Linked DNA regions of Homo sapiens: region 1 is linked to region 2. The links come from fine-mapping of genetic effects on gene expression. A gene starts in region 2. The other region holds a variant in brackets. All regions are shown on one strand. Distances are from middle to middle.

Region 1 (5,382 bases), 71 kb after region 2:
TTATTTACTGGGATGCATCTTGTTGGAACCTTTCCTCTTGAAAGCCAATGACCATGCTGTGAAGCTCAGACAAGATATTGGATAATGGCAAGCCACATGGAGAGAAGCCCTGAAGAATGAGAGGTCATCTTGGGCATTCCAGCAGTAAGTGAGTTCCCAATTTAATATAACCACTGGAGTGACTTCAGCCTATACTATGTGGAAAGAACCACTTAGCTGATCCTAACTAACCCACAGAATTATGAGAAATAATAAATCGTTATTGTCTCAAAACATTAAGTTTTTGGGTGATTTGTTACATAGCAATAGATAACCAAGCCTTATTGCTTAACCATCTCCCCTACTTGTGAATAGACATTGAAAGAATTTTTTGCCAACAGTCTGAGGATATAACTTTGCTAACAGAACTGAGCCAAGCAACATAATTTGCAATTTTCCACTATCACTGCTAGTCTGGGGGATATAAGCACACACACACACACACACACACACACACACACATACACACACACACACACGGGGAGAGGAGAGAGTGAGAGTGAGAGCGAGAGAGAGAGAGCTCTCAAGATTGGTTTATAAACCAAAATTCAAAAACAATGGAAGATATATAATATTAAGAAAGACAACACACAAATGTAACAATGGAAGAAGAATTCACTCTAGACGCAATTCAAATAATTTTTGAAATGACATTTTTAAAAGAATAAGAATTTGGAAATAAAAACATGCAGAAATTAAACAAACACCAGTGGATATAAAAGAATCAATTAGATACCTTGAACATGAAGATGTTACTAGCATTTTTAAAACTCATATTGATAAGCTTTAGGCTACACACTGTTGAAACAAAGGTTAGTGTGGTGGAAAAGAGTAACTAAGGCAGTTACTTCTTTTTGATGCAGAATATGAGATGAAATGTCAAACCACAATCAAAGCTTTGTCCTAGGAAAATTGTTCCAAGAACTGGAGAAAAGGAAGGTGAAAGAGTGGCACAGCTGGAGAAGAGACCAGTTAGGCTGTTCCAGTAGTCCAGAAGCCTCCTTGCAATTTAAAGTAGGGGCTGCAGATCAGCAACAGCAACTGGGAGCTGGTCAGAAGTGCAGACTCTCAGATTCTCCAGACCTGCTAAATCTGAATCTGCAATTTAACAAGATCTGGAATGATAGTATGCACATTATAGCTTAAGAAACTAGCTCTAGACTAGAGGCAATGAGGACCTGATGTTTTCTCGTGGCAATAAAAAAAAAGAGAGAGACAAGGAAAATCACAGGATATTGGGATTTGTTTGAGTGATGTCTTCCTTTTCGTTTTAGCACCCTTTTTTGAAGACCGTCCTCCAGTAGCCTCCTAAAGAAGACTGCATGGGAGATCGGGAGATTTTCTAAGAACTTTAATGTCTGAAAATTTATTTTTCAGCCCTCCAATTTTATTGATAGTTTGGGTGCCAAATAGTAGGCCAGAAATTATTTTCCTTCAGAAGTTTAGCAGCATTGCTCTAGCCTGCTAGCTTTTGGTGTTGCTATTGAGAAAACTAATTTCATTCGGATTCCTGGCCCTTTGTTTGAAGTTATCATAATTTTTCTTTACTCTGGAAACTTATACATTATCTCTTAGTCTCCCGTGTCCTGAAATTTCATCATTTTGTGCCTTGGTATAGGCATAGTTTCACCTTTTGGACTAGGGACTCAGAGAGCCTTTTCACTTGCCAACTCATGTGCTTCGAAATTCTCTTGAATTTTTAAATTGTTGATTACATCTCCTATTGTGTCTCTTCTCATTTCCTGTAACTTCAGTTATTCTGATGTTAGACCTTCTTATCTTTTCACTTTTAATTTCTTATTTATTCTACTTCATAGGAAATTTCTTCAACTCTGTCTTCCTTTTTTGTTCTATTGAATTTTCAATTTATTATAATAGTTTTAGTTTCCTAGGGCTCAATTATGTCCTCTGACATTTTCTTTTTTAATAACACCTTCATTTTATTTATTAGTTGCACTGTCTCACCTTCTTCCCTCATCCCCTGGCTATTAATGATTTGAAGTTTTCTTCTGTTTCCTCCAAATTGCCTTTTTCTGTGTGTTTTACTCTCTGTCTTTCATGTTAGAAATTTTCCCTGGAGGTCTGGGAATTCATGCTTGCTTGCTCATACTTAAAAGAAAGGGACAAAGGAGCTGATCTGAGGTCTGAGCCCAGGAATGGGGCTTGATGACCTCTTTGGGCTGTTCCATTTGATAGTCCCTCCCCCAGCTAATTTCAGTCCTTTTTAGGTCTTTTCTCTTAGGCTGGTAAGATTCCCCCTAGAGAAATACTTTTCCAGTACAGATCCAACTGCCTGAATTGTGGTTGCACCTAGTATGTACGCGTTCACTTAATCCTCTTGTTAGTTCAGCACCCTGCCCTCATGGATGTCAGGCATCCCCCATTCAGGATGCTCTCTCTTTTACCTTAGCCAAACGACTAATAACCCATCTTTTGCCTGGGGTTGGAAGGAGCAGTCACTCCACCACAGGGAATGTGGGAGAAGATTTGGGATCAAACTGTTTCTTATACAGATTTTTGGAATGAACCTCATTTTAGCACCCCTCTCATCCCTCCCATTTCTAGAGGTGCTTGGGACACCCACTTCTGAGCCTTTTGGGAACTCATCTTTCCAGACTGTTGGCTTAAATTATTTTTTTTTTCAGGTCGGCCACATCATTTACAACTTATCTACGTGCTTTTCAGCTTTCAGAACATTGTTGTTTCTGTTGACTTTATCATTTACCCTGTCCTTGCGGGCTTATGCTTTAAAAAAAAAAAAAAAATCCTGGTCCGGGTGCGGTGGCTCACGCCTGTAATCCCAGCACTTTGGGAGGCCGAGGCGGGTGGATCACAAGGTCAGGAGATCGAGACCATCCTGGCTAACATAGTGAAACTCCGTTTCTACTAAAAAATACAAAAATTAGCTAGGCATGGTGGCGGGTGCCTGTAGCCTGTAATCTCAGCTACTCAGGAGGCTGAGGCAGCAGAATCACTTGAACTTGGGAGGCAGAGGTTGCAGTGAGCCAAGATTGTGCCACTGCACTCCAGCCTGGGTGACAGAGTGAGACTCTGTCTCAAAAAAAAAAAAAAAAATCCCCTTACTCTTTAGGAGTATTTACTTTACCCAGGGCATTGGAAAAAAGAGAAAAAACAAACAAA[CA/C]AAAAAAAAACTAATATGTTTATGCACTATCTCTATTTAGAGTCCACGCCATCAACACTAACATTTTAGAGCTATACCACAAACATAACTAGAACCCATCAATAAATGTATCCATGACTTTATTTGAATTGTGGAAACCTGAAATTTAAATCACTGTAACTTTTTAGCTTCATTGGGTTGCACACTACACAATGACTCAAATAAGGTGAGGCCAGTTGATTCCAACAATCGATCAAGGCCAGGTAAAAGTGCCATTTCTTATAGGGGTTCAAGAAGCAGTCTAATTCATTATATTTAATGTTCATTGATGACGTGATAAAATAAGAAATATTTTTACACAAGCGGTTGGCTAACTTTTTCTGTAATGGACCAAAGAGTAAATATTTTAGGCATTGCAAGCCAAACAGTCTCTGTCCCCAACTACTCAACTCTGCTGTTGTAGAATAAAAGTAGCCATAGACAATACATCAACAAATGAGCATAACTGTGTTCCAATAAAGCAGTATTTACCAAAACAACAGGCAGTGAGCTGAAAGTGGCCTATGGGCCATAGCTTACTGACCACTGTTTCAGAACAATATCAGTGATAAAATTACCAAAGGCAGACTTTCTTTCATGAAGCCATTAATAAGGGTCAAATAACAGAATTTTTTTGCTCCTTTTCATTTCATAAATATTTTGAGAATAGATTAAATTCCTTTCTAGAGTTGCAACATCTGAATAATTCAGACATGCATATAATTTAGCTGAGTTTGAAAAACATGAGCTATGTAAAATTACTCTTCACTTTTTAAAGAGATAATTTCATTGGCTGGCCACAAAATCAATGTAATAACTTATTATTTATTAAATATTTATTGAGTACCTAATATATGCAAGACATTGTTCTCACACTGAGGATTAAGACTAAATTAGGCAAAGTCCAGCTCTTGCTGACCAAATCTATTAAGCTCACAATTTTCACTGAACTATGGCTTTTCTTAAGGGCATTAAAACGTAATGTTTGTATAATTTCCTTTATCAAGTCTCTCAGACAGTATTTTAATCTTCATTCAACTCTGATCATCATGCTGCCTAATCTGTTTCCATCTCTAAAGGGCCTCCTGCCACACTGTTTTAGTCATAGATTTATGACGTGTGCTGTCACATTAATAATTCTCTGGCCCTGTGGCGTAATCAGGGACATCATGCATTGCTGGCATTTATTGTGTTTGCTTAAAGCTCTTGGAGTTTCTCACATACTTTTATTTTGCAACAAGTTGAGGATTTTCAACTCACGTTCCAGGGCTGTTAGTATGACAAATATTCCTGTGCAATGTCTAGTGAACTCTAAGAAAGCAACAGGCCAGTTACCCCACCTCCGCCCTCAAGGACCAGACCCATCCTGACCCAGCGTCAGGGATCCAAGTGCAGATCTTGATGGTAATTGGGAATTAAGGAGGAAGAAGAGGGAGGGGTTTTAGAAGCACAAAGCCAGATCACATTGAGTTTTGGCTTAGCTTAGAATTCCCTATGATAATCTCCATCTAAATGGCAATTATGAAGCCAGAGGCATTTCGAGCCAAAACATGGTTTGAGTTGGTTTTAGGACAGATCCAAGGATCCAGTATAAGCCAAGAACATCTCAGAGGTCCCAAGCTTCTGAGATTTGCTCAGTCTTGCTTTTTTCCTTCAGAATAATTCCTTTGAGCTATAAGGTACATTGTATTGTTCAATTTTTTTTTTTCACTAATCGTAACTCTAATGAAATTATCAATTCTGAGATTTAGGGAAATGAGATTATCATTTACATTTGACAGATGAGAAAACTGAGGCTCGATGACATTGTTCAGGCTTACAATGTGTTTAGGTGGCAGAGTCTGTCCTTAAATTCAGGTCTTTTCTCCTTAGTGATACATCCCCTCTTTTTACCAGTCGAGGATAAGCAAAGTAACTCCTTTAATTGTGTGGTATCCTTGAATTGTCTTCTGCCCCAGATCTCAAAGGAATTTAAGCAAATATCATGGAGAAGTTGGGAGTGGTAGAAACTGAACGAAAAGGCAAAGCAAAGAGTCGAATGCCAAGTATGTTTTAAAAAACTAAGTTATGTGCAAGCATTTTCAGAAGCCTGATTAAAAATACAGTAAAATGAGAAGGAAGAAGCCTGTTGACATCAAGGTCATAAAGTGAGGGCAAAAAGAACAGTGGCAAAAGAGGAGTGA
Region 2 (5,382 bases):
GCCGGGCGTGGTGGCTCACGCCTGTAATCCCAGCACTTTGGGAGGCCAAGGCGGGCGGATCACGAGGTCAGGAGATTGAGACCATCCTGGCTAACATGGTGAAACCCCGTCTCTACTAAAAATACAAAAATCAGCTGGGTGTGGTGGCGGACGCCTGTAATCCCAGCTACTCAGGAGGCTGAGGCAGGAAAGTCGCTTGAACACGGGAAGGTGGAGTTTGCAGTGAGCTGAGATTGCTCCACTGCATTCCAGCCTGGGTGACAGAGTGAAACTCCACTTCAAAAAAAACAAAAAAAAAAAAAAAAAAAGAAATTCTTTGTGAAAAGTGATTTTTGATGCCACTCTTGCTTTCCTAGTTCTCCAAACTCATGCTCAATACATCTGCTGATTAATCCAGTTCTGCCTTTGTGGATCTAAATCCCACTCACCATTGAGTACTCTGCTCATTTTATAAGTGAAATTGGATAAATGAATGAATGAATGAGCAGGCTAGTCTACTCAGTCAAAGGGAAGACGTTTTGTGTTTTATTTCTTCCATTTTTACCTTTTTGGTACCTGTATAGTAGATTAATAAACCCTGACTGACGGCCGGGCGTGGTGGCTCACACCTGTAATCCCAGCACTTTGGGAGGCCCAGGCGGGCAGATCACCTGAGGTCAGGAGTTCTAGACCAGCCTGGCCAACGTGGTGAAACCCCGTCTCTACTAAAAATACAAAAATTAGCCGGGTGTGGTGGCGGGCGCTTATAATCCCAGCTACTCGGGAGGCTGAGGCAGGAGAATCTCTTGAACCCGGGAGGCAGAGGTTGCAGTGAGCGGAGATCTCGCCATTGCACTCCAGCCCAGGCGACAGAATGAGACTCCGTCTCAAAAAAACAAAACAAAACAAAACACCCTGACTTCAGGGTCCCTGTTTATTGCCCCTTTGATCAACAGGTGCTGTGGACAGTATACCAGGTATATATTTTTTTCTTTTTTCTTTGATACGGAGTCTCACTCTGTCGCCAGGCTGGAGTGCTGTGGCGAGATCTAGGTGCACTGCAACCTCCGCCTCCCGGGTTCAAGTGATTCTCCTGCCTCAGCCTCCCGAGTAGCTGGGATTACAGGCACGTGCCATCACACCCAGCTAATTTTTGTATTTTAGGTAGCGACGGAATTTCATCATGTTGGCCAGGATGGTATCCTGACATCGTGATCTGCCCGCCTCGGCCTCCGAAAGTACTGGGATTACAGGCGTAAACCACCGTGCCCCGCCTATATATACAGGCCTGAACCCGGGAGGCGGAGGTTGCAGTGAGTCGAGATCGCGCCACTGCACTCCAGCCTGGGCCACAGAGCAAGACTCCGTCTCAAAAAGAAAAAAAAATTAATAAATAATAAATACAGCAATTCAGCAGGGCTGCTGCAACACCAGCTTTCCCAGCTCTGGGTGCTGGGGCTTGTCTCCGTCACAAGCCCCCAAGGATCTCAACAGGGTGAACAACAGTTGCAGAAAGTGAGCTGTTGCCTTCACCCTCACCCTGCTGCTCCCTTTGCTCTCCGAAAGTTACGAACTTTGAGTTTCCTTCCCGATAAACTCCAAGGTTTCCTCACTGATTGGTCTCAGTTTGGGAAAGGACGTGACATCAGCAAGTTTGCAGACTTGGGGCTGGAGAGTTAACCAGTATATTACTAACCAATATACTATTATTTATAAGAACCTGTGTGCAAATGCCTAAACCCATTTTTCAGAATCCTTTCAGCCAACAGGCACCTGCTGAATGCTCACCGAAGTGTGTATTTGTGGGATTCTGTACATTAGCACAGACACCACTTGACAGATGAGAACAATACCTGTAAGATGATTCTCCAATGTTTTAAGTAAAACAAAGTCTCTTTTGTCTCTTTTGAAAGTGACTCAATCAGTGCTCAATGTTTGAACATCTTTATAAACCCTGCCCCACCTAAATGCCAAACACCTAAGACTTACAAATTAAAAAGTTTTAGCATTAAAAATTTTCCTATTTATAAGTAACTTTCAAACCTCCAATTTAATAAATAATGCATTTGACCCACAAAGAATGATTCCTGGGAGCTGAAATTTTCACTGGAGAATAATTTGTGACAATTGAATTTGTCTTGTCTGTAGGATTCTGCAGAAAGAAGTATACACATTTTTGAACAGCTGTGTAAAGAATATATACCAGTGAGCTGTGGACATCTGCCCAGTAACAGCCCCATGGACACCTCACACAGAGCCACTGAAACTGCCCAACCCTCCTCTCCTAAGCACATTAGCCAACCTCCCCAGGGCTGATTCCACTGCCCCTATGACTCACCGCCCATCAATGGGTTTGAAAGAAGCCTGATGCCAGGAAAGTCCCTTGGCCCCGCGGGCTTGCTCCCATCCATGCCCCCTTGTTTGCCATCCATGATGCTCTCTCCTAAGCGAGCAAGCTCTGCGCTCCACTTCAGTTGCTCAGCAAAGTCCAAACTCCATGCTCCCCCTGCTCCTGAAAAATTCCAGTTCTGTGGCTGGCTGAGCTGCACACGTTCTGGTCAAATGGTCTGCAGCAAAGCACAGAGCAGGCAGGGTAATCTGAGTGCTACCTGTGATCAGAGAGAGGCATGCGCTCGTGTACACACACACACACACACACACACACACACGTTTTACCTAACTGGCTGGAGGCCCGCCAGAGGCCACAAGAACCCTCCAGCCCTAAGTCTGCGAAGTTGCTGATGTCACGTCCTTTCCCAAACTGAGACCAATCAGTGAGGAAGCCTTGGAGTTTATCAGGAAGGAAACTCAGTTTGTAACTTTTGAGAGTGAAGGGAGCAGGGTGGGGGTGAAGGAAACAGCTCACTTTCTGCAACTGTTGTTCACCCTGCTGAGATCCGTTTGTTACATGGTAGCTTGTTATGGAGACAAGCCCGAGCACCCAGAGCTGAGAAAGCTGGTTTTGCAGCAGCCCTGCTGAATTGCTTGCACAGTAACATGCACAGCACGCCCTGGCCATCTGTACATGTGCTTTCAATTGTGCTGGGAGTTTCTTATGGGAAATGTGTCTATATGTTACAAAAAATGTACCTTTGGAAAGAACCATTTGTTCCTTTCAGCTGCAAGAATTTCACTAAATGTCCTACCTCACCCCTCCTCCACTCATTTTAACTTCTAAATAAATAATGAACGGTTGCAATTGGAAAAATGGATTGCTAGGTGGCCTGAGATGTGGAAGAGACCTGCTATCTTTTCATTGTGAATTACTAAAATTTATTTTGTTAACGTTTTGCTGTTTTTGCTTATACAAAACATTAGGGGCCGGGCGCGGTGGCTCATGCCTGTAATCCCGGCACTTTGGGAGGCCAAGGCGGGCGGATCACGAGGTCAGGAGTTTGAGACCAGCCTGACTAACATAGTGAAACCCCGTCTCTACTAAAAATACAAAAAAATTAGCTGGGCCTGGTGGCAGGCGCCTGTAATCCCAGCTACTCGGGATGCTGAGGCAGGAGAATCGCTTGAACCCAGGAGGCAGAGGTTGCAGTGAGCCGAGATCATGCCACTGCACTCTAGCCCAGGCGACAGTGCGAGACTCCACCTCAAAAAAAAAAAAATTTGGATGTACTGTGTCCATGTCTTTTCAGATAAACCCAGTTGCCTCACACCCCTGGGTGCTACTTCAGGCTGACAGGCACCTCTAGACTCCCACCATTCCTCTCTTCCAGGTAGAAGAGGATTTTTCATCCCCATGGGGGAAGGCTCTGAGTTAAGTCTCAAGCATAGACTGGCTGTGAAGTGATTGCAGATTTGTCTTAATGCCAAAGATGAGGCCTAGATGTTTTAGATTTACGGAGTCTCAGTTAAAACATTTGGTGGCTGTTATTAACAGTTTGAGGGGTGTAATTCACGTTTTTAAAGGCATTTATATGCATACACATGTATGCACATTTATCAATTTACATTTTCCACATAAATGTACCTATATTATTCTTTTTTTTTTGAGACAGGGTCTCACTTTGTCACCTGGACTCGAGTGCCATGGTGTCATATCGGCTCACTGCAACTTTCACCTCCTGAGCTCAAGCAATTCTCCTGCCTCAGCCTCCTGAGTACCTGGGATTACAGGAGCGCACCACTGTGCCCAGCTAATTTTAGTATTTTTAGTAGAAACAGGGTTTCACCATGTTGGCCAGGCTGGCCTCAAACTCCTGATCTCACGTGATCCCCCTTCCTTGGCCTCCCAAAGTGCTAGGATTACAGGCGTGAGCCACCGCACCCGGCCCCTATATTATTCTATTATTCTATGCTTTTTACACTTATTTTGTCTGTGAGAGCTTTCCATATCAGCTTTTATAGGTATGCTCCTGTCTTTATTCACTGTTGCATAGCATTCCATATTGTGCCAGAAGTATTTAATTATGCTCCTAATGATGCAAGCAGAATGTCATTATTTCTGTTAGTACTATGAAAGGACTAAAGTTCATATTTTTGTACATGTGGCTTTGTGCACATAGGCAAATATTTCTAGAGGAGAGATTCCTAAGAGTGGAAATGCTAAGTCAAAGGCATACTTATGCACATGTAATAAATTGTATAAAACTGAAGACACACACAGGAATGAGTACAAGTAAAACCGGGGAATTGAATAAGATCAGTAGATTGTATGAATGTTGATTTCCCAGTTACAATATTGTACTATAGTTTTGCAAAAAGTCACCATTGAGGGAAACTGGGCAAAGTGCACTGGAGATCTCTATGTGATTTCTTACAACTGCATGTGAATCTGTAATGATCTCAATACAAATTGCACTTTTTGAAAAGAGGCTGCTCATTTAAAATTTGGATAAACACTACTAAACTTCCCTCTATCTCTATTTGCAGAATTAACTGAGAAGGCCATAAGCATACAAATTCTTTACCACTCCATCAGGAAAGATCTGAAGAATGATACATTTGTTTGGCAGAGAGTGAGGAATTGATTCCCAACACAGACTGGATGAGGAGTTGAACAGAAGGGCACAATGGGGAAACTGGATACTATTTCCTTTCCTTCCCAGTAAAATCTTTGTACTACAGCTTCTTTATTTACTTTTAATTAAATTCCAAGTAGATAAGCCTTTTCCATATTCAAAATTAAGTTCCAAAATGACAATAAAGAAGATTTCCAGGTTGTTTCCCTAGTACCTGGGAGGGAATTAATTCATCAGCCTTTAATCTTCTCATTTTATTTATGATGTTGATCAACACCAGTGAATAGGAGGATTGGAGATGAATTTTTAAACTGTTTAACAACAGTTCTTTACAAGGGGAGTTCATGCATTTGTGGATTTGTATGAGGATAAAGTTGAATCACATGTGTATGAGCTTTGATTATGGAGAAATTGGTTGGCTTACCAACAGCCA

What was found. PIP is the estimated chance that this variant, and not a neighbour inherited with it, causes the effect.
Region 1: its variant is the best candidate, but not a certain one, in a credible set for the expression of ASB9 in lung (TOPMed, PIP 0.57).

Annotation. Positions count from the first base shown.
Region 1 is chrX:15,338,834-15,344,215 of GRCh38, forward strand. No RefSeq gene overlaps it. Among named protein-coding and RNA genes, the nearest start is that of PIGA, 6.0 kb to the left of the region's middle. The variant CA/C (reference allele first, on the strand shown) is at 3,181.
Region 2 is chrX:15,267,464-15,272,845 of GRCh38, forward strand. It overlaps ASB9 (ankyrin repeat and SOCS box containing 9), which reads right to left and starts at 2,620. Exons shown (of 7, transcript NM_001031739.3): 1 at 2,318-2,620. The coding sequence starts at 2,411.